Linked DNA regions of Homo sapiens. The protein of the gene in region 4 purifies or fractionates together with the protein of the main gene of each other region. This does not show direct contact. Each region holds a gene or a part of one and is shown on either strand. Other genes may lie near its edges.

The links.
Region 1: the proteins of ZNF550 (region 4) and SMARCAD1 purify together in Homo sapiens (affinity purification with mass spectrometry; 2 studies listed by BioGRID and IntAct, with this or other methods). This does not show direct contact.
Region 2: the proteins of ZNF550 (region 4) and MRPS9 purify together in Homo sapiens (affinity purification with mass spectrometry; 2 studies listed by BioGRID and IntAct, with this or other methods). This does not show direct contact.
Region 3: the proteins of ZNF550 (region 4) and SLMAP purify together in Homo sapiens (affinity purification with mass spectrometry; 2 studies listed by BioGRID and IntAct, with this or other methods). This does not show direct contact.
Region 5: the proteins of ZNF550 (region 4) and STRIP1 purify together in Homo sapiens (affinity purification with mass spectrometry; 2 studies listed by BioGRID and IntAct, with this or other methods). This does not show direct contact.
Region 6: the proteins of ZNF550 (region 4) and STRN purify together in Homo sapiens (affinity purification with mass spectrometry; 2 studies listed by BioGRID and IntAct, with this or other methods). This does not show direct contact.
Region 7: the proteins of ZNF550 (region 4) and STRN4 purify together in Homo sapiens (affinity purification with mass spectrometry; 2 studies listed by BioGRID and IntAct, with this or other methods). This does not show direct contact.

What each region holds. Positions count from the first base shown.
Region 1 is NC_000004.12:94,214,025-94,218,506, forward strand, and holds part of SMARCAD1 (SWI/SNF-related matrix-associated actin-dependent regulator of chromatin subfamily A containing DEAD/H box 1), read left to right. Parts: intron 1-4,482. UniProt on the Homo sapiens protein: DNA helicase that possesses intrinsic ATP-dependent nucleosome-remodeling activity and is both required for DNA repair and heterochromatin organization.
Region 2 is NC_000002.12:105,093,031-105,097,512, forward strand, and holds part of MRPS9 (small ribosomal subunit protein uS9m), read left to right. Parts: intron 1-499; coding exon 500-608; intron 609-4,021; exon of another isoform or gene 4,022-4,124; coding exon 4,125-4,294; exon of another isoform or gene 4,295-4,368; intron 4,369-4,482.
Region 3 is NC_000003.12:57,905,696-57,910,177, forward strand, and holds part of SLMAP (sarcolemmal membrane-associated protein), read left to right. Parts: exon of another isoform or gene 1-47; intron 48-271; exon of another isoform or gene 272-352; intron 353-2,188; coding exon 2,189-2,311; intron 2,312-3,359; coding exon of another isoform or gene 3,360-3,380; coding exon 3,381-3,455; intron 3,456-4,482. UniProt on the Homo sapiens protein: Associates with the striatin-interacting phosphatase and kinase (STRIPAK) core complex, forming the extended (SIKE1:SLMAP)STRIPAK complex.
Region 4 is NC_000019.10:57,552,668-57,557,149, reverse strand, and holds part of ZNF550 (zinc finger protein 550), read left to right. Parts: intron 1-792; coding exon 793-919; intron 920-4,427; coding exon 4,428-4,482. UniProt on the Homo sapiens protein: May be involved in transcriptional regulation.
Region 5 is NC_000001.11:110,044,059-110,048,540, forward strand, and holds part of STRIP1 (striatin-interacting protein 1), read left to right. Parts: intron 1-260; coding exon of another isoform or gene 261-279; exon of another isoform or gene 280-629; intron 630-781; coding exon 782-847; intron 848-956; coding exon 957-1,020; intron 1,021-2,621; coding exon 2,622-2,693; intron 2,694-3,483; coding exon 3,484-3,558; intron 3,559-3,713; coding exon 3,714-3,811; intron 3,812-4,482. UniProt on the Homo sapiens protein: Plays a role in the regulation of cell morphology and cytoskeletal organization. Required in the cortical actin filament dynamics and cell shape. Part of the striatin-interacting phosphatase and kinase (STRIPAK) complexes.
Region 6 is NC_000002.12:36,840,709-36,845,190, reverse strand, and holds part of STRN (striatin), read left to right. Parts: 3' UTR 1-4,482. UniProt on the Homo sapiens protein: Calmodulin-binding scaffolding protein which is the center of the striatin-interacting phosphatase and kinase (STRIPAK) complexes.
Region 7 is NC_000019.10:46,739,729-46,744,210, reverse strand, and holds part of STRN4 (striatin-4), read left to right. Parts: intron 1-4,482. UniProt on the Homo sapiens protein: Calmodulin-binding scaffolding protein which is the center of the striatin-interacting phosphatase and kinase (STRIPAK) complexes.

The DNA.
Region 1 (4,482 bases), on a different chromosome or scaffold from region 4:
CTAGTTTGGTATTTAGTTGTCTAGTAACAAATCCTGTAGAGAAGTCAAGTTGAGTGGGGACTGATCAGTGACCAGTTTCCTTGGAATTAAAAGTAACTACTAACCTTTAACAGTTTCAGTAGAATGGTGATGAGATAGAGATTATTCATTCAGGAAAGGAAAGAGAGAAATAGGTAACCTGATTGGGAAGTAATGTCAAGAAAATATGTTTCAGGATTATTGAAAATTGAGCGTTCTTTTGTTTTTTTTTTTTTTTTTGAGACAGTTTCACTCTGTCACCCAGGCTGGAGTGCAGTGGCGCAATCTCAACTCACTGCAATCTCTGCTCTCGGGTTCATGCCATTCTTCTGCTTCAGCCTCCTGAGTAGCTGGGACTACAGGTGCCCGCCACCACGCCGGGCTAATTTTTTTTTTTTGTATTTTTAGTAGAGACCCGGTTTCACCGTATTAGCCAGGATGGTCTCAATCTCCTGACTTGAGATCTGCCCGCCTCGGCCTCCTAAAGTGCTGGGATTACAGGCATGAGCCACCGCACCTGGCCAAGCGTTTGTTAACCAAGGACAAGAAGCTAGTGGAGAGGGAAGGACTGAGGGAGGGAGGTATCTGAAGAGAGGCATCAAGTGATGAGAACTGAAGAACAGTTGGACTGTTTAACTGTGCAAAAGAATAAAGACATATTTTCCCTGGGGGGGATAATTGAAGGAGATAAAAATAGATGGGTTCATAGATTATTTTGGCATTGGCGGAATGGAGGAAAGTTTTAGTATATGTTTGATGAATTTTTTTTTTTTTGCTGAAATAGATTTAGTCCTCTAGAGTGGTTGCCTTTTCAAGGTGGTTGTCATATTGAAAGTAGCACTTGTTGATAAGTGAGAGACATTTTTAAAACTATACCAGTCGTCAGAAAGATTTCCTGAGAGTATTGCTCTGCCACATACAGATTGTATGATCTTGAGTAAAAAGTCAACTGTTTGGGTCTTACAGTCTTCTCCTGGCTTTGCTTAGTTTTCTGTATTCCTTGCCCACATTAAAATGGTTATTATCCTTTGAATGATGATACTGAATGTATCATTTTAGCTTCATAATTCCGTGACCATTGCGCAATACTCAGTCTTTTTGTAGGTGTCTGTGGCCAAAATGTGAGCCATCGTTAAACCTGTAGATAGTCATTGTGGTTTCTTAATGTCTGTTAATGTTAATTGAAAAGCAATACTTAGTTAAAGGGTTAGTGCTGAATTGTTGTAACAGAAAGTACAATAAGTACTCAAAAGTAAGTAGGAATCTTAAGTGCATTTTAAATGTGCATGTATTTGGCTGGGCACAGTGGCTCATGCCTGTAGAGTCGCAGCACTTTGGGAGGCCGAGGCAGGAGGATTGCTTGAGACCAGGAGTTCAAGACCAGCTTGGGCAATGTAGTGAGACCCTGTCTCTACAAAAAATGAAAAAATTAGTCAGGTGTGGTGGTGTGCACCTGTAGTCCTAGCCACTTGGGAGGTTGAGACAGAAGAATTGATTGAGCCCAGGAGTTTGAGGTTATGGTAAGCTGTGATCACTACACTACATTCCAGCCTGGGCAACAGAGTGAGATTCTGTCCCAAAAAGGGGGGTGGGGGGGAGGAGGGGGATAGAAATATTATTTTAGTCATTGTCACTTCACCCTACACACAAATTTCACTAGTTTGTATCAGACTACATCTTGGTTTTGATGTCTGCTTTTTCATACCTGTCTAAAATATTGCAGACCTTTATTATCTTTAATAAGCTAATAGGCAAAAGTATGTTATTGTTGCTTTTTCTTTATTTTTTAGTTTAAGTATGTTTTCATAAATTTACTAGCCATTTGGATTTTTTGTGTTTCTTTATGCTTTTCTGTTTTTCTAATACATGTCTCTCCGATAAATTATTTGTAAGTATATCTTAAATTCCACGTGTCTTAGTCTGTTAGAACTGCTGTAACTACCATGAACCGGGTAGCTTATAAGCAATAGAAATCTACTCTTGGCAATTCTGGAGGCTGGGAAGTCCAAAATCAAGGTGCTGCAAGATTAGGTATCTCAGGGCCCTATTCCTAGACCACAATCTTTTAACCCCATGTGGCTGAATGAGTGAGGGGTCTCTTGGGCCTCTTTTATAAGGGCACTAATCCCATTCATGAGTGCTCTGCCCCCATCACCTAATACCCCTTCCTCCCTCCAGCAAATGTCACCTCCTAATACCATTACCATAATGGTTAAGATTTCAACATACCGTTTTGGGGAGTGGGGCACAAACAGACCATAGCACCCCCTTTGTTGTTTGCCATAGAAAAATTTTAGATTTTTATGTGGTCACCTTGTTCATCCTTTCCTCTAAGTCTTCTGCATTCCGCATTACCACACTATAAATATACTCATTCATATTTTCCTCTAGTATGTCTGTTAATTTTAAAAATTATGATAAAATACACATAAGAAAATTTACCATCTCAACCATTTTTAAGTGTACAGTTCAGTACATTCAGTTCAATACATATACATTGTCATGCAACTATTCTCCAGCACTCTTTTCATCTTGTGAAACTGAAACTCTTTATGCATTGAACAACTACTCCTCATTTCTGATTCCCCCAGCCCCCGGCAACTACCGTTTACGTTGTCTTTTTATGAATTTGACTATTCTAAGTATCTCATTAAAGTGGAATCATCACTTAGCATAACATCCCCAGGATCCATCCATGTTGTAGCATATATCAGAATTTCCTTCCTTTTTAAGACTGAATAATATTTCACTGTGTGTATATACACATTTTGTTTATCCATTCATCCATCAATGGGCACTTGGATTGCCTCCACATCTTGGCTGTTTGAATTGTATTGCAGTAAACATGAATGTGTAAATATTCTCTTTGAAACCCTGCTTTCAGTTCTTTTGGTTGTATACCCAGAAGTGGTATTGCTGGATCATATAGTAATTCTATTTTTAATTTTTTGCGGAACCTCCATACCGTTTTCCATAGGTGCTCCACCATTTTACATTTCTGCCAACAGTGTGGTGGGTTCCAGTTTCTCCACATCCTCTCCAACCTTGTTATTTCCTGTGTTTTTGATAATAGCCAACATAATGGACATGAGTTTGTATCTCACTTTGGGTTTCGTGTTGATTTTTAACTTTAAATCTCCTCTGAATTTTATTTCATTATAGGGACTAAAGAAAGGGTGATATCGTTTTCTCCTTTGTTCATTATTCACCAGTTACTAGTCAGTTTTTCATTTATTGAAAAATCCTTTTTCTTACATTAAAATGTCATCATTATAGTCTAAAATTCCCATGTTTGTTTGCATCTTTGGGTCTGTTAATCTGTTCCTCTAATCTTAATTTACCAGATTATTTTAATTTTTATAGTGTCATATATATGATGTATCCTAGATTTTGATGTGTTTTTGTTGTTGTTGTTTTCTCTTTGACCTGAAAGTTGTTTAGAAGCCATTTTTATGAGGTTTTGTCTCTTTTTAAAAAATTTCCAACTGGCAGAAATTTTGCTTGCATATTTTTGTTAACATTTACTTCTAATTTCACTGTTTTGTGACCAGAGAATGTGGTCTGTAGTATTTCTTCTTTGGGGGAAATTAACTCAGATTTTCTTTGTGGCCTAATATTTAATTTCTGTAAAAATTCAAGGGTGCTTGGAAAGAAAACATAATCTAAGTACAGATTTAATTATATGTCGAATAATAGATGAGTTTTATTATATCTTTGTTTTTCAAACTGGATCATAAACATTTATTGTGTCATAAAATCAATTTCTTGGGTCCTGACTAAATATGTATAACTACAATTTTTAATGGAGTAGAACAAATAGAAAATTATCAAAGTGTATTGCTTATAGTAAGAGCTGCTCACATTTTCTTTCAGTTACACTTGCAAATCTAACAATCTGTGTGCTTAGTATCATAATCTGAAATATGTCTCTCACAGTGGGTTTCAGTCAAAAATGTTTGAAAAACACTGTTCTACATCTTGTTTATTTTTGTGCTCTTGCTTTATTAAGAGCATAGAGAAAAGTTAATGCTTCATATTTGTCTCTTGACTCTTTGCCTTATATATCCTACAATTTTTATGCATTTCATTATTAGTATGGAGTTGGGATATGTCAGTTATATTTTTATTGTAGGTATAAAGTCTATTATTTAGAAGTCCCTCCTTTAGGTTTAACGCTTTTGCCTTGTTCAGTGTTAATTGCATGACTTTCTTTTCCTTTATGTTTTAATTAATTAATTGTTTTATTTTATTTTTTTTTTGAGATAGAGTGTCACTCTGTCCCCCAGACTGGAGTGCAGTGGCATGATCTCTCTCACTGCAACCCCCACCTCCTGGGCTCCTGAGTAGCTGGGACCTCCTCCTGACTCAGCCTCCTGAGTAGCTGGTACCACAGGCATGCATCACGACGCCCAGCTAATATTTGTATTTTTGGTGGAGACAGGGTTTCACCATGTTGCCCAGGCT
Region 2 (4,482 bases), on a different chromosome or scaffold from region 4:
ATATTTACAACTCTTAAAAGATTTCACGTCATTGTCATTTTTAACTACTGTGGTGTTTTCAAAGAAATGTGACCTTTCCTGAGTATTTTTTTATTTCTACTAGTTATATTTCATCATACTATTTATATATTTCTAAAACTTATGTTGTTAGATATATTCTTACTGTTTATAAAAGAAGAATGCTATGTAAATTGGTTGTGGATTCTCGTAAGGGAAATGAATATAAATTACTTTGTTGGTTGTTCAAACTAATTTAAAATCATTGTAGTGTTTCTAAAATGGAATTGAAGAACAAAATTACCCCACAATGAGCTTTATTGCATCTGTTGTGCTGTAGTTTACCTGCTTTATTTTTGTTTGACTTGAAATAATAGTTATAGGACTTGCTTATGTACAGTGTTGTGTATTATTTTGGGGAAACAAATTTTAATGTAGTTTTACCTGTCTCAAAGCGCAGGTCTTCAAGATATTTACTAATAGGAATTTTATATTTTTGAAGGTAAAAGAAAGACTGCAAAAGCAGAAGCAATTGTTTATAAACATGGAAGTGGAAGAATAAAAGTAAATGGAATTGATTACCAGCTTTACTTCCCGATCACACAGGACAGGTTCGTTTTGGGTTCTGATTTTTTGTTTTTAAAGGAAACATACTTTATAATACATCATGATCATTTAAGAAGGCTTGTGATCTTCTAATTCTGTTTATCTGAATGATTATTTCTCTTTACCAATGTAACATATCAAACTAGCTAATTGAAGCTATTTTTTAAAGCAGCTTCCAGATTTTTTAAAAAGCATCTCTAGAATTCCTCATTAATTGACTCTTCTTCCCCTTTTCATCAGATCCTACTGCAGTTTGAGTAGTCTTAGATGTAGCTTATGTTCTGAAGTGCAGACTGTGCCAAAATGTAAAAAATTTTGATTTAGATTTCCACCTTCTAGTTTGGGGATGGGCGTGCACAAAACAAAACCACCACCACAACAACCAGCCTTGGCACTTAAAACTGACCTAACTCACAAGGCAAAGAAAAGTGCAAGTAATTTCTTGTGGCTTGTGTATGTTTTTCTGATCATAAATATTAGAAAAATTCTGCTTTATCATTTTGGATTTTTTCCTATTCAGAGGAATGTGATTATATATATTGAGCAAGCAAAGAAACCTAGCATTTATGGGTTAAAATAAGAACTCATCAGGCTTTGCTTAGTTCTGGGTGCTAAATATGGCAGTTTTAATTTTTAAACTTTGTATCCTATGGAGAAATAGACATTAATCATAAATAGATACTACAGCTCTTCTAATCTAAATATACTCATCTCAGAACTCTCTCTGACTTGCTATATAAAGGCCTCTTCTTGATATGGTTATTATTTTCCCAGTACTTACTGTCATTATCCACGAGTAACAGAAGTTTGGTATGATTAGTTCCTCCTTTCCTAATCCTTCTCCTGTTTCCTGCATGTGTTACGGTATTTAAGGTCAAAAGGGCTAAAACTCTTTTGATACCAATGCTGATATAGGCAAAAGAGGACCCTCCTAATACAGTGTAAGCTTCTGGACACAATAATTATTTTAGGAAATGTGTGTTTATTTTATTTGTGTGTGCCTGTGTCAACAAGCAGTGCATTCTTAACTCCATTTAAGATGAATTAGTTCTGCTATTATCCTCACAGGACAGGGGATGGAAGAAGCTTTTATTTCCCTTAGGAAAAGCCAGAGAGAAACCCATACCCCAGGGTTTGATAACTTCAACATTGGGAACTATAGGAGGACTGTTCTTTAACCAATAACCTGTCTGTTGATTTGTATTCAGACATAACTCCTGATGATTTAACAGCAAGTCTCAATTCTGGCTTGATCTCATAATGAAATTACATCTTTAGATCTTATTCTTTGGTTTGAATTCAGCAGCTTTTTACTAAGGACATCTATGTCTCCAGTCTTGTTCTGGGCATTGTGAAGATATCAGAGATATTTAAGATATGATTCCTATTGTCAAGAAACTTCCTACATGGTTGGGAAGCCTAAGCCTAGTCTTGGTGGGAATGGGCACCTACAACTATTTTAAAGTAGTTGTAAGGATTTAGGGCAGTCACTTCAGGAACTTACAAATCAGCAGTGAGGTGACCATTGACTAATAGGAAGACTAACCAACCCAGAATCAGGGATCTTGATCGGAATTCTGTCATCACCTAACACACAGTGAAGTGGGTTAGCCACGTAAGTGAAGTTACAAGGGAGGCTTCTGGACAGCCATTTGTTTGGGAGCTTAAACACTTTCCTGGCTTAATTTTTAAAATTTTATGATTCTTTAACAAATGCTTATATAAATAAAAAGAGACTTCAATTAAAATCTAGAAAAATAGATTTCATAATGTAATTACTGGATATATAACTGAGTCATGGAGCCAGATGGTCGAGGTAAATGCAATAGTGGAATTAGATTTTCAGTCTGTACATTTTTTTTTTCTTTTTTTTTTTTTTTTGAGATGGAGTTTCGCTCTTGTTGCCCAGGCTGGAGTACAGTGGTGCAATCTTGGCTCACCACAACCTCCGCCTCCTGGGTTCAAGCAATTCTCCTGCCTCAGCCTCCTGAGTAGCTGGGATTACAGGCATGCACCACCATGCCTGGCTAGTTTTGTATTTTTAGTAGAGACGGCGTTTCTCCATGTTGGTCAGACTGGTCTCAAACTCCCGACCTCAGGTGATCTGCCCGCCTCGGCCTCCCAAAGTGCTGGGATTACAGGCATGAGCCACTGCGCCCAGCCTAAATTTTCTTTTATATTTACTTTTTTTTTTTAAGAGACAAGGTCTCTTTATGTCACCCAGGCTGGACTCAAACTTCTGGACCCAGACTGGACTCAAGCTGCTGGGCTCAAGCAGTCCTCCCACCTCAGCCTCCTGAGTAGCTTGTACTTTAGGTGCTCAGCTTAAATTTTCTTTAGTTATCATAGTATATTAATAGATACTACTTATAATACTGTTTTTATAACTTATGGCTACTTTTCATTTGGTTTCTTGGAAGCATTTGTTCAAAAAGACAGTATAGATTTATGAGTTTTTTGTTGTTGTAGGAGTTATGTCATCCCTACATCGTATTGTTATAAATTCCGATTTGCTATGGCTTTTGAAAGTCATCTTTTGCCCATCTGCTTGTGATTATTTTACTAGTGTGGTATGAAGAATAGCACTTGAATGTCCTGTCCATACCTGTCTCTCAGCTTAACTGTGTTATATAAACTTGATTTTGGGTCTAGAAGCTACAGCATCAAAGAAAGCAAACGCAATATAAGTGAGCTTTTCTGCATAAAAGTGTAGCAAGATATTAAGGCAAAATAGCAAAATCAAAGTGCTTGACAGAGGTAATGGTGAACATCTTACCTGGCGTGAAAATGATATTCAACAAATACTTGTTCAGTTGAGCAGGAGAAAGTCCAGGGCCGTGTTTTGTCTGTGGTGCCTGCCCCAGGATCTTGTAGGCCCTGACCGACCCTGAAAGAGCAGGCCTGACAGGGGTTGTGTAGAATGTCACCTGGCCCCAGGAAGGTAGCAGGACCCTATGATTTAGAGAACTTTAAGAATATTGGGAATAGGTGTTTGGTGTCAGGGAAGTGCAAGGTCGAAAATAGTTTTAGAAACTTTAAAAACTAACCATATCAAGATGAGCATTATACATTATACAGATACACTTATAGTAGACTTTATTTAGTGAATCCAAATGACATGTGATAATTGTTTGGAAAGGCCTATTGATTTTATATCTGATCATTCAATCCAGAGACATTAAATTCAGTTGATTAATGGAGTTCCCCAACTGTAAGACTTCTTTACGAGATTATTTTCAAGCTTTGAAAAGATCTTCTGAGATAAAGGGGATCAGCAAACAGTAAGAGTGTGTTGCTATACCCAAGCAAAAGAAATAAATCTTAATCTCTCAGCAAATCATTCAAAATGTCAGAAATGTTAGTGTTTCTATATCTTGGTAAAATGGATTGATTGAGAAGTATGAAAAGTATAACAGTGGCATGCAGAATATTGTTTTTATGAATATTCAGAATTTCAGTTGTTTACATAATTATGTATCTTTATAGTAAACGTAACCACATTTACTTGTGCTGTGCTTTAGAGAACAGCTGATGTTCCCTTTCCACTTTGTTGACCGGCTGGGAAAGCACGACGTGACCTGCACAGTCTCAGGGGGCGGGAGGTCAGCGCAGGCTGGAGCAATACGACTGGCAATGGCAAAAGCCTTGTGCAGCTTTGTCACCGAGGACGAGGTCGAGTGGATGAGACAAGGTATGAGTCTAGGTGGGACGGGCATGGTGGCCCAATACTGGCTATACATGTTCATCTGCTTCTTGTCCTAGTGCCTGAAGTTCGTAAGAAAATATATAGTTACATATGTAATATTTCACTTCGCTGTCTTCTTTCTTGCTACAGAACCATAACAGTATTTCTCAGATTTGATTTCTACAAGGTGAGCT
Region 3 (4,482 bases), on a different chromosome or scaffold from region 4:
GAAAGTTGTTTCAGAATTAATAGCCAGTGCTTTTGTAGAAAAGAAACCTGTGTATAAAATTTTTTTTGATTATCAAATTATTAACATACAGCAATAGTCCTCAACACAGGACATTTTACCTCCCAGGGGACATTTGGCAATATCTGACCAGGAAAACTACCAAACATCCTACAATTCATAGGGTAGCCCCACAGCAAAGAATTTATTCAGCCCAAAATGTCAGTAGTGCTGAGGTTGAAAAACTCGATCACAGAGCAAGGAAAATACCTACTCAAGGAATTAATGTCGATGTTTTTGTCAAACCACTTGAATGTAAGATGCAAGCATCATGATGCTTCTCTTCTAAATACTCCTTAAAAAAAAAAAAAAAAAAAAAGAGCATTATCCTATATAATGACAAATCCAGAAACAGGGGCCAGGACCTTTGCAGACTCCAGTGGATAGTGTTGAAAGAGCTGTGAGAGAAGTTTTGTAGCTAATGCAACAGTGTTTCTGCCACTGGAAAAATCTCTCTCTCTACATGCCCCTTCCCTGGCCCAAAGACCTTTTGAAGGAAGAATTGATAAGTTGACTAGAGTAGCTGAACCCAGAATCAAATTTTTTTCTTTTTTTTTCTTTTTTTTTTTTTTTTTTTTTTAGAGACACAGTCACTCTCTGTCGCCCAGGCTGGAGTGCAGTGGCGCGATCTTGGCTCATTGCCACCTCTGCCTCCCAGGTTCAAGCAATTCTCGTGCCTCAGCCTCCTGAGTAGCTGGGATTACAGGCGCGCACCACCACGCCCAGCTAATTTTTAGTATTTTTAGTAGAGACGGGGTTTCCACATGTTGCCCAGGCTGGTCTCAAACTCCTGACCTCAAGTGATCTGCCTGCCTCAGCCTCCCAGAGTGCTAGGATTACAGGCATGAACCACCGCGCCTAGGCCAGAATACAATTTTTCTAGAGAGAAAAATAGGATATAATCTATGAATATGAAAAAAAAATATATATATATATATATATATATATAATTTCCAAAACCTATTGTAATTGTATTGTGAAAGTTATTCTTAGCTCTTTTTTGATGAATTGAAGTTATTATGCTGAGGTACTTATAAACCAAGGTGATACTCAAATAGAATTCATTAGAACAATATGGCTTACCTGATGATATATTTATTTCAGGCAGTGTTCAGTAGCAGAAGGTTTTAAAAAATTAAAAAGCAGAATGATTGGAGAGGAAGGAGTTTAGGGGAAGGGGCATATTTGAAATAGAATGCTGGATTTAATTTATTTCGGTAAAACCACTTAGGTTACATCATTTAATATATTCAGCAGATTTTTGTTGTTGTTGCGGTTTTTTTTTTTCTTTTTGATACAGAGTCTCACTCTGTTGCCCAGGCTGGAGCGCAGTGGCGCGATCTCGGCTCACTGCAACGTCTGCCTCTTGTGTTCAAGCAGTTCTCCTGCCTCAGCCTCCCAAGTAGCTGGGACTACTGGCACCTGCCACCACGCCTGGCTAATTTTTTGTGTTTTTAGTAGAGACGGGGTTTCACCGTATTAGCCAGGATGGTCTCGATCTCCTGACCTCGTGATCCGCCTGCCTCAGCCTCCCAAAGTGCTGGGATTACAGGCATGAGCCACCACGCCCAGCTCAGATATTTGTTATATGTGCGTGTTGGGGAAATGATGATGACAAAGTAGGCTCAGTAGAGCTTTCAGCCTAGTTTTTATTTTGTGTTCCACAACTAGGGTAATTGTGCTAAAATTTAGCTGTTACTTGAAGAAAAGTTTCTTTTTGTTTTCCATATCCAGTTAAGTTCCAAGTGAAATTTTTCTGACTGGTTATCAAGAAATTTCAAAATTGATGAAGAAGTATAGCATTTTGCTCATCTCACTGAATTTCAAGTCTTAATAAGCAATGAGTTATAATCTGTCACTGTCTGTTTATTTTGATGCTAGAATTGTGAATATATAATTTATGTTAATATATTTTTATAATGTCATCACCATGATTACTAATATATATAACTGTATTTGTATTTTCTCCCAACTACTAAAATGCTTACTATAATTTGCTTCTAAGTTTTATTTAACTCAGTTGTTCTATGTTGTTTATGCATGTGCAAACATGAGAGAGATTACCAGTCTTTTATTGTAGATTATAGTGTGATACTAACTCTTGCTTTTAAAATAAACATGTTTTTGTCAGATGACTTGCAGGGTGCACAGTCAGAAATTGAGGCAAAGCAAGAAATACAGCATCTTCGAAAGGAATTGATCGAAGCCCAGGAGCTAGCTAGAACAAGTAAACAAAAATGCTTTGAACTTCAAGGTGAGATCAAGATTACTTTGGTTCTTTAGGGATGTGTGGAGGCAGCACAATATAATTGGGTGGCCCCAAACTTGGAGTCCGGAGGCATGTTCCAGATTCACAACTTTATGAGATATGTGATCTTGGTATATTTACTTGACCTCTCTAAACTTGTGTTTCAGGTCAGTAAAATGAGGAGAGTTACAGTTGCTCTACCTTCACACTGTTGATGTGAAAATCAAGTAAGATCTTTACTAACTGAAAGATCTTAATAGTTAATTGCATATTAAGTACAACAGAAGGAAAACTCAAATTTCTAAATTTTTATTATGCCTAATGTTAGCTAATGTCCTGGCCACATTCTTTTCTAGTAGCTCACTTATCTATAGGTCATAAGCCAGTGGAGTCTGTGCAGTTCCCTAGAGCTTACATTTCTGTATCATTCATAGTAACTACCTGGTTGCAGACAATTAGTATCTCAAAGAGTCTTAAAATGAGAAAGGGAATGACTTCTGGAGCCCTCATGTTCTCCAAGATGGCCTTCCTGCCTAGTAGGAAGATTTACATCCCAGGAGGGAACTAGGAACTTCTTGTTACTACTTCTTTCCTTTCCTAATTCTCAAAGAAATTAGAATTGGTATTCACTTAACTTGAACCTTTTGGAGGATCCAGGCTAATATATTAAATTACAATGAAAAAATATTTGGTAAATAGCAATTATTTAGTTTAGTGTTTACTATGTGCTTGACAGTAAATATAAGAATTTTAAGTCTTTTTAAAAAATTAAGTTCAAAATGCTGATTAACAATTATCAAGACTGTTTCTCATGTTAAGAAAAGCACATATTGTCTTGGTGATACCAGGTCCAGAAAACTCCACTACTCAGTTGAATAGATTTATTACTTACTACAGTTCTGTGCTCCTAAAATCTTTAAACTAACTGCTAATACTGATAATACTTACTGCCTAACTTTTGTTTCTTTCAATAATCTTTTAGGAGAGAATTTTAAAAGAAATTTTCAGCTGCTCAACTCTGAGTACTTTCATTAATTCACAAAACTATTAATAGATACTGTGTTTTTACTTTTAGCTCTTTTGGAAGAAGAAAGAAAAGCCTATCGAAATCAAGTTGAGGAATCCACTAAACAAATACAGGTTCTTCAAGGTATGGAAGACCCCAAGGCTCTTTGAGATTGTTATTGTGTGTTTGTTTTTAGTGATTCAAAAGGAATGGAGGCCAGGCGCAGTGGCTCATGCCTGCAATCCCAGCATTTGGGAGGCCGAGAAGGGTGGATCTCCTGAGGTCAGGAATTCGAGAGCAGTGTGGCCAACATGGTGAACCCCTGTCTCCACTAAAAATACAAAAATTAGCTGGGCATGGTGGTGCATGCCTGTAATCCCAGCTTCTCGGGAGGCTGAGGCAGGAGAATTGCTTGAACCTGGGAGGTGGAGGTTTCAGTGAGCTGGGATTGCACCACTGCACTCCAGCCTGGGTGACAGAGCAAGACTCCATCTCAGAAAAAAAAAAAAAAATGAAATGGAAAGTAAGAAGGCAGAGAGTCCCCATTTTTCATGGCTTTGATTCTCTAGAACCTCACATTTCAACACGGCTCTTGGTGGAGCTTTATTTATTTATTTGTTTTTGAGACAGAGTTTCGCTCTTGTTGCCCAGGCTGGAGTACAATGGCGCGGTCTCACCTTACTGCAACCTCCGCCTCCCAGGTTCAAGCAATTCTCCTGCCTCAGCCTCCTGAGTAGCTGGGATTACAGGCATGCGCCACCACACCCAGCTAATTTTGTATTTTTAGTAGAGATGGGGTTTCTCCATGTTGGTCAGGCTGATCTCAAACTCCCAACCTCAGGTGATCCACCAATCTTGGCCTCCCAAAGTGCTGGGATTACAGGTGTGAGCCACTGCGCCTGGCCTATTTTTTTTTTTTTTTTAAAGAAAATTCAAGGGAAGATTGTCCAGTACTCTCGTATTAGACACTTAGAATGGAAAAAGCAGAGGTGAAGATTTGGAGTTGGTAAGACTGTCACTTTCTGAGTTATGTCGTGAGTTCCTACAGAGGGCCTTTGGATAGGAAATCTGTTTGAGCTACTCTGCGTCAGCACTTTGAGCTTGCTGGTATATGTATATATTGATGGCTGGTGTAGATATATTGCCATCTAATGCTCAGAACACACTTGTA
Region 4 (4,482 bases):
CTCGTCAGCACAGACCCTTTATGGGTGTCGGGCTGAGGGAAGGTAAGGTCTTTCCCTTCCCACGAGGCCACATCTCAGGCTGTCTCAGTGGGGGGAAACCTTGGACAATACCCAGGCTTTCTCGGGCAGAGGTCCCTGTGGCCTTCCGCAGTGCATTGTGTCCCTGGGTACCCGAGACGGGAGAATGGCGATGACTTTTACCAAGCATACTGCCTGCAAACACATGTTTACCAAGGCACATCCTGCACAGCCCTAACTCCATTAAACCTTGAGTCAATACAGCACATGTTTCTGTGAGCACAGGGTTGGGGCTAGGGTTACAGATTAACAGCATCTCAAGGCAGAAGAATTTTTCTTAGTACAGATCAAAATGGAGTTTCTTATGTCTTCCTTTTTCTACATAGACACAGTAACGGTCTGATCTATTTTTCTTTCCCCCACACTTAGCTGCTGCTGTTGCTGTTATTGTGGTTGGATTAGTATCAGTCATTTTCCTCCATTCTTTTAATATGCCAGAGTACTTACTCTCTGCTTCCCATAGTCCTCGTGGGATTGCCATTGTTTGTGTCATCTTCAACAGCTTCCCCATAGAAGGCTTTTCTCTCAGGCACAATTGCATTGTCAAAAGGCAGTATCTGCCTCCCCTTTGAGCCCTGCACGGAAGTCAGCCCAAAGGAGACCTAGTTGATTCAGACCTGGATCTCTCTGCACATTGACTAGAGACTGAGTGACAGGTTCTGATCCTATGCGACAACACAAGGCCAATAGCATTACTTCTGTTTGACTTTCCAGATGTTGGTGACCTTCAAGGATGTGGCTGTGACCTTTACCCGGGAGGAGTGGAGACAGCTGGACCTGGCCCAGAGGACCCTGTACCGAGAGGTGATGCTGGAGACCTGTGGGCTTCTGGTTTCACTAGGTAATGACTCACCTCTCATCCCTGAGGAGGACCCTAACCCTGATTCTTGGCCAGGCAAAAAGGTCACTGGAACTGCCCACCTTTCTCTTGACAGACCTTTCTGTTCCCACCTCTTCCTGACTGGTCTCCCTTTGTCTGCATCAGAGATTGTCGGGGTAGAAAATGTCCTTTTAACACAAACCCTCACTCCAGTGCTCAGCCCATTCTGAGGTCCTTAATCAAGATTGCATAAGAAGGAAGCTGATTGGCCATCCTGGTGGGGTCAGCTGTGGCCACAGCCCTATTAAGCAGGGGCCATGGGTGATGGGCTGTTCTTAGAGAAAGGGGTGAGTCAGGCAGCCCCCCAGAAGACATTTGTCCTCAGTGCCCCTCGGATATCTTCCTAAGCAATACAATCTCTGTAAAAAGGCATCTGGGTGCCTGCATGGTCATTAGTTGTTTTCTGATGCTTGATATCCATGCTCTGTTGATCCAGGAGGTGTTTTTAGAGGGTACACAGGAATGTCCTCAAATGGCATGGTTTGATACCCTGATAAAGCCATTCCTTTTACTTTCTCTGTCCAGCACGCTAATTCTTGTCATAAAAGTCTCATCAGCTGGGTGTGGTGGCTCACGCCTGTAATCCCAGCACTTTGGGAGGCCGAGGCGGGTGGATCACGAGGTCAGGAGTTCAATACCAACCTGGCCAAGATGGTGAAACCCCGTCTGTACTAAAAATACAAAAATTAGCTGGGCGCAGTGGTGCGCGCCTGTAATCCCAGCTACTCAGGAGTTTGAAGCAGGAGAATCGCTTGAACCTGGGAGGCGGAGGTTGCAGTGAGCCAACATTGCGCCAGTGCATTCTAGCCTGGGTGACTGAGCAAGACTCCGGCTCAAAAAAAAAGAAAAGTCTCAGATCAGCGCTGAGTCTTTCATTTTCCTTTCACTCCCCCAGTGCAGTTCATTTCTTTTTTTTAACAGAGGGGACAACCTCCAACTTAGCCCTAAGAAACATACAAGGGTTTCCTGGGACTTAGTGGCATTGTTTTGATTTTGTTGTGTTGTGATTGCAGACTTCTATTTGTAGGAAGGGAAATTGACTTTCTCACTTACCAGAGCAAAACAAGGTTCCCTTTTAGAATACAATATTTAACAAAAGTGGGTCAGGATAAAGAAGTTATTAGAATTGATGGCACACTCTGAGTTCAGTTGGGAAGGTGGACATCAATCCATAGATGACAACTGAAATAAGTTCTAGAAAGAAAAATGAGGGGAATTTAGGAATAAATAAGCAGGATGTCATAACCTATTGTGGGAGTTCCAAAGAGGGCATCTCAGGAAGTGACAGTGGAGCTGAGACCTGAAAGCTGAGTAGGAGTTAGCTGGATAGAAGGAGGTGGAAGAGGGTAACAGTGTTCCAGGTGGAGGAACCAGCGTGTGAAAAGTGACAGGGAGCTCAGCTCTTGGGAGAGCCAAAGGATCATCTGATTCACCTTTCCCACAGCCCTGTCCCAGAACTCAAAGCCAGGCATGTAGCACACATTGGTGGACCTTACTGTGACATGTCTGAAGGAATCCTGGGCTATGGTTCAGAATCTGCCAGTCGATGTTTCTGTGGATCCTTGTACCTCAGTCATTGGTCTTCTATACAGAATCCTCCTGTCTTTTACTCACCACATCTAGTGGAAAGCATTTGGCTGCATATAACAGAAAACCAGATCAAACTGGCTTCACCTGGAAGGAAATTCACTAACTCGCCTGATGAGAAGCCTGAGGTGTGGTTGGCTCCAGGCTTGTTCGGTGCCGCAGCCCAGTGACGCCATCAAGGATGTCTTGGTTCTCTGTTCCTTCTTCTTGGTTCAGGCTTCTGATTGTCCTCAGGCTGGCTCCTCATAGGGATGCTGGGTGCTGCAGCCTTGACTGGGGCAGCAGGCCCCCATGTTCAATCCATCCTCCCACCTTGGAATAAATGCTTTCTTTTCACAATGAGAATCCAGCTTTGGTCACCTGCCTAATGAAGACTCTTGCATTACCAATTTATTTCAACCACTGGTTTTTCTTTTCCTTTTTTTTTGAGATGGAGTCTTGCTCTGTCATTCAGGCTGAAGTGCAGTGCCATGATCTCAGCTCACTGCAGCCTCTGCTTCCTAGGCTCAAGCAATCCTCCCAACCTCATCCCCTTGAGTAGCTAGGACCATAGGTGCACACCACCATACCTGGCTAATTTTTTATATTTTTGGTAGAGACGGGGTTTCACCATGTTGGCCAGGCTGGTTTAGAACTCCTGGCCTCAAGTGATCCTCCTGCCTCGGCCTCCTATAGTGCTGGGATTACAGCATGAGCCACCATGTCCAGCCTCAGCCAGTGGTTTGCAGCCCCATCTGGGCACCAGAATTTTGGGGGGCACATTTTGGAAGTACTGATGCCCAGGTCTCACACGAAGAAATTTTGTTTCATTTGGTTTGAGGTTGGAATCACGCATCCCCAAGTGGTTCTGAAAGCACGAGGTGTTTGAGAAGCAATGATTTAGATTTGTTAGAAAATGCCTCCTGGGGCCGGGTGCAGTAGCACCTTGGGAGACTGAGGCAGGAGGATCACTTGAGGCCAGGCACTCGAGACCAGCCTGACCAATATTGTGAATCCCAGTCTCTATTAAAAATACAAAAACTAGCCAGGCATGGTTTTGCATGCCTGTAATCCCTGCTACTCGGGTGGCTGAGGCACGAGAATCCCTTGAACCTGGGAGGCAGAGGTTGCAGTGAGCCGAGCACTGCACTCCAGCCTGGGCAACAGAGTGAGACTCTGTTTCAAAAAAAGAAAGAAAGAAAGAAAGAAAATGCCTTCTGGAGGAAGCAGCACACCTTTGCCGTGTCCCATGGCTGTCAAAGTGTTGTGTGCCTGAACAACGTTGGCTTCCATAGACGGAGGTCATGGGCAGTGGGTGTTGTGTAGACAGATAGCACTACCCTCCATGGCAGTTGTAGCCCAACAGTGGGATTTGTGCCTGTCTTTTATCTCCTTGGCTGCCATAATAAAATGTCATGGATTGGGTGGTTTAAACAACGAGAGTTTATTTTCTTATGCTTCTGGAGGCTGAGAAGTCCAAGATCAAGGTGTCGGCAAATTTGATTCCTATTGAGACCTCTCTTCCTGGCTTGCAGATGGCTGACTTGCTGTGTTCTTACAAGGTGGAGGGACAGAGGAGAGATCTCTCTCTGTTTTTATGAGGCCATAATTTTATCAGATTAAGGCTCCACCCTTGTGGCCTCATTTAATTTTAATTACCTTCTAAAGATCCTGTCTCCATATACAGTCACGTTGGGTGTTAGGGCATCAACATATGATTTTTATGGGGAACACAGCTCACTCAGAGCAATGCCCTTGATTTTCAGGGCTCACATCAGCATTTTGCTTACTTTGGGAGCAGCTGCATTCATGTCTGGACCCTGTCATGAAGTCCTAGGCAAGATGGAGAGACTTTCATTTTCTCATTAAATTACCCCTATTCTATTTCTTTTGCTATCAACAGGGCATCGGGTTCCCAAACCAGAGTTGGTCCACCTGCTAGAGCATGGGCAGGAGCT
Region 5 (4,482 bases), on a different chromosome or scaffold from region 4:
CCTCATGTGGCTACTGAGGCAGTAATTGGAGTTAGCTCTTGGTTAGATGTGCTAGTGAAGGGGGATAGGAAACAAATAAAAACAAAAGCATTTAAGCAAACATGTCTCCACCCATCCTGGGGTTGTGTATGGTTTTTAACAAAAATGATAGATTAAGGAAGAGTTTCTTTAGAGCCATAATGAAAATGTTTGAGATATATGTGGGTAAATCGATGGATGGGACGGTACCTGGAGATATATAAATGGTGTCTGTTTGATAGGCAGCAGCTTAAGAAATAGATGAACATGTGAGAGGATATAGAAGTCGCTTTCTTGATCCAGGTAAAGCCTCAGTTTTCAGTGATCTGTGAAGGGAATGCAAAACAGATCATCAGAAAATGCAAGGTATGCTGATTGTTTGGGATAGGAAAAGTGAGCTATATGAAAAATCAGTAGCCTATAGCTTTAATTGTTTAAAAGTTTTAATATTTAAGAAAGTCTGTTGACAAACTTGTTCATACTATCTGAATAAAGCATGTTTTTAAGTTTGATATATCCCTTTAATTTTATGAATAAACTAGTTAACATGTATTTCCAGGTTACTGATCCAGCAAAATTATAAGAAACATTAAAATTCTCTGAAAATTTCAGTTTTTTCCCTTTTTTCAAAGAGAAAAACAATTATAGGAGACTTCTCCTGGCTTCACAGTTTCTGGATGCTGTGTTTTTGTTAACTGTAACACTTTGAAATAGCATTTGCTAAAAACCTTTTTTCTTTCTCTCTTTTTTGGTGATGTGGCAGAGAGAAAGACATTGAGATGTTCCTTGAGTCCAGCCGCAGCAAATTTATAGGTTACACTCTAGGCAGGTGAGTAAAAGCCGAGTTCATTTTGCTGTTAGCTCTCCCGGCCTTTGGTGTTTGGGATCCCAGGTGATTTGATGTCGAGGCTCAACACAGGGCCTTCTTTATTCTCCAGTGACACGAACACAGTGGTGGGGCTGCCCAGGCCAATCCACGAAAGCATCAAGACTCTGAAACAGGTGAGTGGCTTTGGGTGAGCTTTTGGCTTGTTTGGTCCTAAGTGAGTAGAGTGAAACCAGCCTGTAGGGAGAAGCCTTTTAAGACTGTTGTCTGCCTGCAAGAACCTGGGGTAGAGGCCGGGGTGGACTTTGCAATAACCTTGCAAACAGTCTTTCGTAAGTTTTGCTTGTTTTATTATAAGTTTTACTTGTTTTAGCTGAGCTTTTGTTTGGGACTGACTGGGAAGTCTTTAAAGATTATATTACCTGACCACCGGGCACCAAGGCATGCACCTGTAGTCCCAGCTACTCAAGAGGTTGATGCAGGAGGATTGTTTGAGCACAGGAGATCAAGGCTACAGTGAGCTATGATCATGGTCCTGCACTCTAGCCTGGGCCACAGAGTGAGACCCGGATTCTTTAAAAAAAAAAAAAAAAAAAAAAAGGATTATATTACTTGACAGTTGTTGAAATTCTAAAGAGCTCAATAAATAGCCCTCCTTTTCCTTGCCCACGTTCTCAGGCGGTTGAAATAGAGGAGTAGGCAGATGGAGATTGTAATGCCAACTTTATAGCTCATAGAGCCATGGAGAATGAGGCTTAAGAACACAGCAGTAGTGTCCTAATACGTTGTTCCAGAATTAGGCAGAGTTACCTACCAGTCCCAGGCAGTGTGGGGAGGCTCTGCCAAGCTTGGTGGCGGGGAGGAGAAGAGAGCAGACTCTCAGCAGGCAGACAGGTTCTAAAGAGAAAAGAGAAGGGTGAGGACAAGTCCGCCCTGTGTCCCCTCCCATACTCTCCGATCAGAGAAGGGAGGAGTGAGTGTGTGGACGGGGCAGAGAGAGATGAGGGGTGTTTCGCAAACCCCTGTCCCTCCACACGGGAGAGAACATTAAGAGTGGGGAAGAGGCATCTCCCCTAACAGCTATCTGGAGTGAAACTGTTTTTATGTTTTTGAAATATATTTTTGGAATTTGTAGTACTAAGTGGTCTCTCTGCAGCTAGGCTTTTTGAGTACTTGATTTTGCTTTCAGTTTTTCTCCTGTTGCTGTAGCTATCTGAAAGGCCATTTCCCTCCTTTAATTTACTTTTTTCTTATCTACCATGGGCTTCTTACTGTAGTTGCAAGAGGAAGGGGCCCTTTTAGAAAAATATTTTGGGGCCAGGCATGGTGGCTCACGCCTATAATCCCAGCACTTTGAGAGGCCAAGGTGGGTGGATCACCTAAGGTCAGGAGTTCAAGACCAGCCTCACCAACATGGCAAAATCCCATCTCTACTAAAAATACAAAAATTAGCCAGGTGTGGTGGTGCACACCTGTAGTCCCAGCTACTTGGGAGGCTGGAGCAGGAAAATTGCTTGAACCTGGGAGGCGGAGGTGGCAGTGAGCCAAGATCATGCCACTGCACTCCAGTCTGGGCAACAGAGGAAGACTTCATCTCAAAAAAATAAAAATAAAAAATATCTGGGGTTTGGGATTTTAGCTAGGGATTTTTGTGGTGACTTAATCCTCTTTCAGAAGACTGTGTTTGAAGACAAATGTGTGGGGATTTTGCTAGAGTGCAGGGAGTTTGGCCAGAGAATGTTTTCCCCAGCCCTTCTTTTCCCATCTCTCCCACCAGCACAAGTACACGTCGATTGCAGAGGTCCAGGCACAGATGGAGGAGGAATACCTCCGCTCCCCTCTCTCAGGGGTAAGTTGGAGGTCCTCAGTCCGGGCGCGGTGGCTCACGCCTGTAATCCCAGCACTTTGGGAGGCCGAGGAGGGCAGATCATGAGGTCAGGAGATTGAGACCATCCTGGCTAACATGGTGAAACCCCGTCTCTACTAAAAAAAAAAAAATTAGCCAGCCGTGGTGGCGGGCGCCTGTAGTCCCAGCTATTCAGGAGGCTGAGGCAGAAGAATGACGTGAACCCGGGAGGCGGAGCTTGTAGTGAGCCGAGATAGCGCCACTGCACTCCAGCCTGGGCGACAGAGCGAGACCATCTCAAAAAAAAAAGTTAGAGGTCCTCTTCAGCCCCCGGGATCCCCAGCTCTTCCCAGGCATTGTGCTGGGATTAGACCACAAGGTTGCCCCAGGCCCTGCCCTCAAAGAGCTCCCAGTCCACCTCCCAGTGCACAGGCTGAGACACGTCTAGTGCAGGGTTAAGAATACAGACTGAGTCAGGAACCTGCCTCTGATGCCTGGGTCCACCACTTTATGGATGGCAACTTAGGCAAGTTACTGGGTCTCTCTATGCTTTATTTCCTTGTCTGTGAAATAGGAATAATAATACCTTTATAGGGTTATAATAATAAGGATGAACTGAGTTATTACAAGTAAAATGCTTGGCACATTGTTTGTGTTCAGGGTTTGCTGTTATCATCATTAACATCATTATGTACATCACTGTTTACAGGTTTTCCTCCAGCCAGCTAGGAAGCTGGCTCAGGAGATTGTATTCTGGGCTGGGGTTTTATGCTTGTACTCATTATGTTAAAAGGGAGAAGAAGAAGTTGAGCAAGTCCCTGCAGAAACCCTCTACCAAGGCTTGCTCCCCAGCCTGCCTCAGTATATGGTGAGTGGTGCCTGCAGTGGGACACTCCCACTACACTGGCCTTAGAGCAGGCCCTGCCGTCCTCCTGCCACCTGCAGACCAACAGGAGGACTGCTCAGAGCTTAATTTTGACCCTGGGCTCTCAGACCTGTGTCTGAATGGTCTACTCTTCCCAGATTGCCCTCCTGAAGATCCTGTTGGCTGCAGCACCCACCTCAAAAGCCAAAACAGACTCAATCAACATCCTAGCGGACGTCTTGCCTGAGGAGATGCCGTGAGTATCATTCTGTGAATGAAGCAGGTGGGGCAGAAGATAGATGGAGAAGGGCAAACATTTTCCTCTTGTCAGGTTGGTTGTTGTTGGCCCAGCTCTACAGGTTAAATGTAGGTATTTTTGACCCAAAAAAAGGAAACTACGAGATTAAAGAGTTTCACTGGTTGGGGAGATGGCTTGGTCCTGTTGGCCTGGATTCTAGTGTAGACTCTACCACTGAGCAAACTCCTGAGTGAATTGGGGAAAGTCATTTCCTCCTCTGTAAAATGAATGGGGCCACCCTGGACATTTCCCCAAAGCCCCACTCTCCAGCTGTGATTGAGACACCCAGGATGAGGAGGGTTAGTTTGTAGACAGCTTGCCAGCAACAGCTGAACCTGTGCCAGGTATAGAGACATCCCTTTTCGCCAGTGATTGGGCACGCAGAATGCTGGCAAATGTCTCAGGGCGATAGAGTGAGATTCTTCAGAGCTCTTCTGCCCTGTGCCCTGTACTTGTCTTTCATGTGAGAGTCCAGATTGAGATCATGTTCTACTTTGAGAAGGACCTGGACCTTGACCTGATCTTCTGCCTGCCTGGGCCACCAGCCCTGAGCCCAGCTCCTGGGTGGCTGTGGCCCCGGAGTATGGCAGTGATGGCCGGCTGAGGGAGGAGGCAGGGGTTGGCTAACA
Region 6 (4,482 bases), on a different chromosome or scaffold from region 4:
TCTGTCTGTGTGATGTTTTCAACCAATAGCCAAATAATTATTGAACTTACATGAAAAAGAGTGCTAAGTATAATTTTATTTAGATTACTTTATTCTTTGAAAGTGACTACAAGGCTATTAAGTACATAATCATTCATTTTATTTACTCAGAAGTTGCCTCTCCATTACTGTTAACTTGTTTAGTAATTTATATAATTGCAGTACTTTTAAGTGTTGGACACTGGGATTCAGGTTGTATACAAAGTAGTAGCTGACGAAAAATATGTATATTTTTGTGAAATGTATCAAGCCCTAAAGTTCATTTTAGAGAAAGGCCCAGAAAAACGTATCTGTGTTTAAAAACAAAGGACAGGTCATTCGTCAATTTGAATCATTTTTACTTTTGCCACTACAAACTTTTTAATTGGCAATATCCATCATCCAACTGGATCTTCATGTCAGTGTCAGGGATGCCAGGTTGACAAAGTATTTAACAGATCCTTTCAGTTTTTGTTTTGTTTTTTTAATTCTAAAAAAAACAAATGTTAGGCCAAACAGATCCCTAGATCCCACTCATTGATTCTGGCGGTATTCCTAAAGTGGTGCTTAGGGGGTCAGAATTTTCTGGATCTTTGCTAATCCAAGCTTTAGATTTAATTTAACCAGGACCACATGCTTGTCATCTCTCTGATGCAAATTTTCAAAATCATTTTAATTTAGATTCTAATGTCTGCCTGGGTTTTTAACAGGCTGTGAACCAGTGAGTGCCTTGTTAATGTAGAATGATTTTTCCCCCCTGGGTGGGTGTTAGTTAGCTCCTCTCTGAAAATGTCTCAGAGAATGGTATTTTAATTGACTTGTAGAGAGCTGCTAAATTTGTTATTATCAGCAATCAGAAAGTCTTTGGTCTACCACACATCTCCCTCCCTACTATCTCTTCATTGTTTGGCTGAAGTTTGCCTCTTGTGAGAAAACAATACAACTCCCCTTCTCCACACACTTTTTTTCCAGCCCAGATTAATAGGTATCCCCTACCCTAATCCCAACTCTATGATCTAATACCTTTTTTAGGAGGAACCACTTCTTTTTAATATTGAAATCTGCTGGTTACTTTATGTTTTCTCAAGTTCAGTTGACTAGAGCTGACCACAGGGTGTCATCAATTCAGATTCCTAAATAACCCTTTCTCTCCACACCCAGTCCTCCAGCTGGTGAGCCCTGGGCCAGATTGTTTGATCTTCAGGTATTTTAAATTTTAGTTACATCAATTAATGTAAATTAATCCAAATGCTAATTTTTGTGGTGCAAGAAGTTTCTTATGTAAATTCAGGGTATGGATAAGCTAATTAAGATATCCATCTTTGGTGGCTCTAAGTGTATTATTTGTTTTTAAATAAAGTGTACAAATATAGATAACATGCTATAGGTGTCTCATGAATTGGAATATTTGTCAGATTTGGGATCTAGCTGTGGCTTTACAGTAATCAGTTAAATTAACATAGTCTGATTTGGGGCTTTTGGGGGAGGAGTTGTAGAGGGGTGCAGAGAAATAAAAGGATATTAGACAAAGTATACATGAGTCCAAAATTAATGAACCAGTCTTAATTACTGATTGTGAGGAAGGAGAAGTTTATAGAGAATTTGGGCCTCTGAAAAGCCAAATTAAAATAGCTTCTAGGATTGGGTCAGTGGTACTTTCAGAGACACATATGTTTAATGAATAGGTTTTATGTTTTTCAAATGTTCAGTTTAAATGGCTTTTAAAATTTATACACATATATAAATACAATGTTTTTATTTTTTGTTTCGCTACTTAACAGACATACACAAGCCTTCCACACTCCCTGCCCCTTCAAATCAACATTATTTTTCAAGGCCTTTGGCCTGCCCAGAACTCACAGTCTTTTTGTTCCAATCAGGATCCACAATACAATATGAAATTTAAAAGGCATCTCTTCTGATATCCTTGAAACTATCCACCATTGTTTGGTGTTCTGTATGCTGGTATACTAATGAGTATTATATCCTTTGGTATGTACACACATTTTCAGTAGTGTTGGAAACACCTCTTTTATCTTTTTAATGAGAACTGAGACATGATTAGCTTGAGTAATTTTGGAGATCTATCTCAGGAGGTCATTAAAACTCCAAAAATTATTCACGGATTGATGAACCTCCTGGGGTCAGCCTAAGATTGCCAGGTAGTATTCTGACCTCCTCTGGGTTTCCCAAGATCACTGATGTTTTGCAGGGCCCCAGCATTGTCCTGGCACATAAAATATTCCCAGAACACCTTGGGAGTCAAGCATACCTTTTAACCTAAACATTATAATCATGGAGCATCCCTCCGCCTGTTACTTCTCAGGATGACCAGAACACTCCAGTTCTCTAAGGAAGCACTGACATACGGCTCTGAAAATTGGAATCCGTTTTCTGAAACACAAATTTTAACTCAGTAAGTTTTGTATATCAAATGATTCAAAACCCACCAAACATAAAATGACTCGCTTCTAAGTATCACTCAAACCCTACAAAACCTAACCCTTTCCTTATTCCTAATTGATATTTCACTAAAGGTAATGGTAGTTTCAGTTAGATTGGAAGTCATTATTTGGGTGAGCAAAGTCTGCAATAACCTACTGATAGGAAGGACCTATTTCATAGAAAAGTATCTTGTCCTTGGTGATTTAGCCATTCACCTTACGTGAAGAGTGGTCCAGATGCCAGCTCCACATTGACTTTTTCTGTGTCCCTCTTTAGGTAATTAACCCAGTGATGTAAAGGAGAGCCCACAGTAAAACATCTGTTAAACAGCACTTGGAGTACTATAGTGTTATTAATTTATGTGCTATAATTTCTTATGCCATCATAAAATCTAGTGTATGTACCAGGTTCCCAATTCATTGCCTCAAACAAAAGATTTTTAAAAATTCTAATAGCATCAAATTAAGGGTAATGGTAGGGAAACCCATCATCCACAATTAAATATGCCCAAACTGAAAACTTTAAGAAAAAAAAGCACATGGAAAGCAACGTTTTACATTAATCGTGAGTTGTAGAAATAAACAGCTTGTGGTTTGTATATGTGCCGAAATGTTAAAGTATGCTGGCATCCAACTACTTCCCTTTGGAAATGGGACCAAGACAATAATTTTTCATGCATAAACAAAATTAACTTAGAGCAAAAGTAATTTTATCAGAAACAGTTTATTTTGGGGGCTGGATAACTTGGGTGAGAGTGTGGGGAAAGAAGTACCTTACCAAAAAGGAGAAGCAACTGACCCTGTGGCCTGAGCCACATTGTCTTCCATTTCAACTTCAATGGGCTGGCAGTATACCACTTCTGACCTCAAAGAATGAATGGTTCCAATTCTGGCTTGTCATTGGTCCTTGTTATCTAAATTAAATATTTTTAGGAAATATATCAAAAGTATCCTAGAGCCCCATGGCAAAGTGTCAGAGGAAATAGTTTTCATTATATTTTAGGAAGCTGTAAAAATATAAGCCCAAGTATTTTGTGTCATCTGCATATGTCAGGATGAAGACCAGGCATGTAAGAAATATCCTAAAGTAGCCAAGTGATAATCTCATGAAAAAATATGAGAATCGTTTTTACAGAGTGAGTTCTCTTTTGAATGGTTTTGACTATGCTTTTAAAAACATTTTTAAAATGTACTTACATCTTTTTCGATAGCCCACGTATTTCAGAATATCCTCTTGATAGAATAATATCACTCAGTGTGATTTTTAGAAAAAGAAAAACTCGGTGGTCTCATATCTTTTGACAGTTGTTTGTGAATAATACCCTCCCCAACAACCTTCCCAGTACTCAACTGCTATGTAAGAATGCTTTCTTATGTGGTAAATGTCTCAGTATTTTGCTGCCTGGTATTTGTTCAGTTTCCTTGTATATCTCAGGGTCAGAAGGAATCAGGCTTTCTCCCAACTCTGAAACATTCAGACTTACTTTCTTTTTGGTCAGCCTTTTAACAAGCAAGACAATAAACTCCTTTTGTCAGAATCGATTTGATTAAAAAAAAAAAAAAAGAATGTGCTCCTTATTTCTCATTGCTGTAGAATACGTAGGAATACACATCTACTAATCACAATTAAAAAATAAGAGAATCTTTAGAAACATCATTGCTTTCTGGAGGTAGAAATTTTGAACTTGAAGGTTGTAGTTCCAGGCAATTTTGTGCCCTTGAGGTGTCCAATTGATAGTATAGCTTGCCTCTGCTAATAAATACACAAAAGTTTTCTTTCCTGTGATTTTCAGAAATTATTTTTGGAATACAAAGATTAATAAGGAATATGTGATGTTTATCTCCTGCATTTCAAAATCTTCTGGATTTTTTTTGAGGCATGAGGAGCAGGTAATGAGATTTTTTTTCTGAATATCTTGATTCTCTCCCTTAACCCAGATTTTGCATATTATGCATTGCTCATTTGTCACCTACAAAAATAAAGGTTAATGATTATTTGTTTGCTTTTGTCTATATAAGC
Region 7 (4,482 bases), about 11 Mb from region 4:
TGTGATGTAGGCAGAGGCAGTGTCATTACCTCACTCAGCAATAACGGTACCAGCTGCAATTTAGTGAGCACATACCATGTCTGGGGCGCTGTATCAAGTACTGTAGATACGAGCTGTCATTTAATTCTTGCAGCATTCTGGGAGGATAAAGGATATTCCCCCTACCTTTAAAAAAAATCAGGAGAGGAAATGGAGGTTTTGAGAGGGTGATTTATCTAGGATCCCAGCAGATGAGCAGAAGGGCTGGTCTGTGGTGGACCTTTTGTTTATTTATTTATTTATTTATTTATTTTTATTTTTATTTTTTTGAGACAGAGTCTCACTCTGTCACCCAGGGTGGAGTGCAGTGGCATGATCTTGGCTCATTGCAACCACTGCCTCCCAGGTTCAAGCGATTCTCCTGCCTCAGCCTCGCAAGTAGCTGGGATTACAGGTGTGCACCACCACCACGCCTGGCTGATTTTTGTATTTTTAGTAGAGATGGGGTTTTGCCACGTTGGTCAGGCTGGTTTCGAACTCCTGGCCTCAAGAGATCCACCTGCCTCGGCCTCCCAAAGTGCTGGGATTACAGGCATAAGCCACCATGCCCGACCGTCGGTAGACTTTTAAGCCCATGTTCTGTACCTCTCTGCTACCCAGTACAGTTGAGAAAATTGGTTCAGGCAAGCATAGTGGCCTCCCCAGGGTCACCCAAGCAGTCATAGCAGAGCTTGGACTGAATCTTGGCCTCTGGGACTTTGCACCAGTGCACCGCACAGCACCCACCACACCATCTTCTCATCCTGGAGGCTGATGAGAGAAAAGATGTTTATCCCCTCACTTACTGACCCTTCTTGGAGTTTGAGAGGAACTTGTGTCTGGCATGGTACCAGCACTGTCACTTTGTACTTTTGTTTTCTTTTATTCTGTTAAGTTAGTAAAAATTCAGACATCTCAGAGGGGTGTGTGTGTGTGTGTGAGTGTGTGTATACACATATATATGTAAGTGAAAAAGGAAAGTTCCTTCTCTTCGTCCCTTTCCTGCTCTTCTCTCCTGAGAGAGAAGAGTTATTGTGCTTATGTAATAGATGAACTACTGCTGTATGTATCATTTTGTGACATAATAATCTGTTTTGGTTTTCCTTTCATATCAGCACAGAGAACTCTTTCTTTTTGATAGCTGCATAGCGTCCCACGGGATGTTTGCACCATAGCTGATTGAGTTTGACCCTGGTTGGTGGACTTTTAGATTTTTTCTAGTTTTTCCCCCATCAGACATGGCTGCAGTGAGAACCCCTTATTCCTGTGCAAGAATGAAGCAGAACAGATGAGTGGAATAGTAGAATGGATGTGTTTATGAAACAGTGATTGGGCTGGGCGCGGTGGCTCGCGCCTGTAATCCCAGCACTTTGAGAGGCCAAGGCAGGTGGATCACAAGGTCTGGAGTTCAAGACCAGCGTGGCCGATATGGTGAAACCCCACCTCTACTAAAAATACAGAAATTAGTCGGGCGTGGTGGTGGGCGCCTGTAGTCCCAGCTACTCGGGAGGCTGAGGCAGGAGAATCGCTTGTACCCGGGAAGCAGAAGTTGCAGTGAGCCGAGATCACACCACTGCACTCCAGCCTTGGTGACAGAGCGAGATGCCATCTCAAAAAAAATAAAAATAAAAAAAGAAACAGTGAATGACTCTGCCACATTGACCCACCAGTTTACTCTCCCATCAGCGGCACCTCTTTTACACACCTTTACTTGAACACTTAGTGCTAACAGACGGTGTGACTTCCCCTGTGAGATCCCTTAAGAGCTAGGCAGTGTCAGATTTTCCTGATGGACTCTGAATAACTTTTCTCTGAAGAGCTTAATACAGCTGCTCCTAGCAGAAGACCTGCCGTGCGACCCTGCTTGGTACCTGTGTGTTGAATGGCAGAGAAGGCAGCCCCCAGGGAGGTCCTGCCAGTAGTCACCATAAGTTTGGAGCAGGAAGGTGGCGGAGCTGCAGTCTGATAATGAGCAGGCATTTGCTAGGTGGGGGATTCTGAGAAGTAAGTAACGTGGTTTCTGCCCATCCGAAACTTCCAGGCTGGCAGAGGAAGCTTGTTTGTGCAGGGGACCGCAGAGCTGTAGATGTTCATGCACAGTTGATTGTGTGGCTCTGCCCCTGTTCTGTGGCAACTCTGAGAGGGGAAGCTTTTTGAGGATGGGAGGGACCTTTTAATGAGGGATCTGAACTGGAGATTTGTATAGGAGCAGCGACAGGGACCTGCAGTGAGTGCGGTGCCAGCAGAGAATGTGCGGAGCTGCCCCTGCCCACTTCAGCTTCCTGGGGGCCCATTCCTGCCAGCAGCTGCTGAAGCTTGGGAAGGAGGCCCTTAGGAGATGCAGGGCTAGATGGCACGAAACGGGGACTCTTCCCAGCTAGCTGGGACAGGAAGCAGCGAATTCAGAGAGGCATCAGCTCCTGGGAGGACTGAATTGCTGGGACTCCTCCGAAGCCTTTAGATGTCGCCTTGCTGGGAATAGCTGGAGGGGCGGAGAGGCAGTAGCTGCCAGGTATCAGAAGGTTTTGGGAGCGCATGCTCTGCGGCTCTGGCTAGAGGGAGTGGCAGTGGGTGGATATGGTGAGCGGCACTTCCAGATCCCCGACCGACCCTCAGGCCTACCTTGGCCCTCGCAGACCAGACAGCCCGTGGGGGCTGCTGGCGTTTGCAGCGAGGGAGAGACTGGCCACTGACGCTTCCCGTTTTTGGTGGGTTTCCACCTCCCTGAGATGCTCCAACCATGTCTTTCTGGTTCTCTTTCCAGAGGCACTGGGAAAGGGACAGCAAAGCAGAGTGGGCAGCTGAGACCCTCACATCCTCATTAGGAGGAGGGAGACCACAGCTCGATGAGGCAGCAGAGGGATGAAGGGGGAACCCAGCCAGTGACAGGTCTGGTTGGGATGCCCAACTCCACCTCCTGCCCCCACAGATAGACCACTACTGTGTCCACTGCCCCGGCCTAGTCCAAGCCACTACCGTTCTGTCCTGGGATTTCTGGGACTGCCCTCATCTGTGATGGGGGTCTCTGTGTCCAGCTCTGCCGCTCTCCTGCTCCCTCCCTCTAGTCTCCCTCCAGAACTCCCTCCAGTCAGTTCTCCATGTTTTAGCTGGAGCTGCCTTTATAACATGCGAATCGGTTACCTCTCTGTACTTAAAACCCTTCCATGGCTTCACTGAGCCTTTTACAGGTTCTGAAGCAGCCATCCTGGCCTTTTTTAGAGTTCCTTAAGCCCACCATGCAGCTCTTGTCTCCGTCCTCTGCCAGCAGGGCCCTTCCCTCCCCTGGCTAACTTCTCTTCAGCTTCAGGCCTTAGCTGAATTGTCGCCTCTTGTCCCTCTTCCCATAGCGTCCTTCGCTCCCGCAATGGGGTCCTAGTCACATTGCATGTGAGTTGCTGCTCATGCCTGTCTCCTGCATGGGACTGAGCCCTGTGGGTGCAGGAACCACATGGCTCCTCTGTTATTCCCCAGCGCCTTACTGGGGCACCTGATGTGTGTGGGCAGTCACCAAACAGTGGCAGGTATTGACCAAGGTGTAGGTTCCCGGCAGGCTGAACTGCCCCTGGGAGGTTGAGGGATCAATCACCAAACCCCAGGAGGGAAGGGAGGAGAGTGAGGAGGAAAGTCAGGACTTGTCTTCGGTGGTCGGTCTGCCTCTCCTCACACCTTCTCCAGTGATTCAGAGAGTAGATTTGGGGGACTGAGAAGATACACAAAGGACAGAAACTCATGCTTCAGAGATGCTGATGTCATATAAGTAGTTTCCCTGTCTGGCCTTGGATGTTTATATACATATGTGTTGGTAAAAAGTGTTAAAAAGGAAAAAAATTTCCCATTCTTGAAGCGGACAGATGAGTTTTCTTTTCTATAAGGTAACTGGTGACATGTATTTCTTTTTTTTTTTGAGACGAAGTCTGGCTCTGTCGCCCAGGCTGGAGTGCAGTGGCACGATCTTGGCCCACTGCAATCTCCACTTCCCAGGTTCAAGCGATTCTCCTGCCTCAGCCTCCCGAGTAGCTGGGACTACAGGTGTGTACCACCATGCCTGGCTAAGTTTTTTGTATTTTTAGTAGAGATGGGGTTTCACCATGTTGGCCAGGCTGGTCTTGAACTCCTGACCTCAAGTCATCTGCCCACCTCAGCCTCCCAAAGGGCTGGGATTACAGGCGTGAGCCACTGTGCCTGGCCAATCCACAGACATTTCTAGTTGATCTGGGGTCTCCAAGGGATCCTACCTCCCGTAAGGAACTGGGCCCATTTCGAAGTTGCGAACAATGGACAGGGAGAATAAAAATGATGAAAGAAGTAGAAGCTGGCATTTGTTAGCCTTTATTCTGTGCCAGGCCTTGACTGAGCAGAACCTAGCACATGAGGGGAGGGCACTCTTGTGACTCTCATTTTCTAGAGGGGCAAATGGAGGCTCAGAGAAGGCTGATGACCTGCGTAAGATCATGTAGCGAGTAA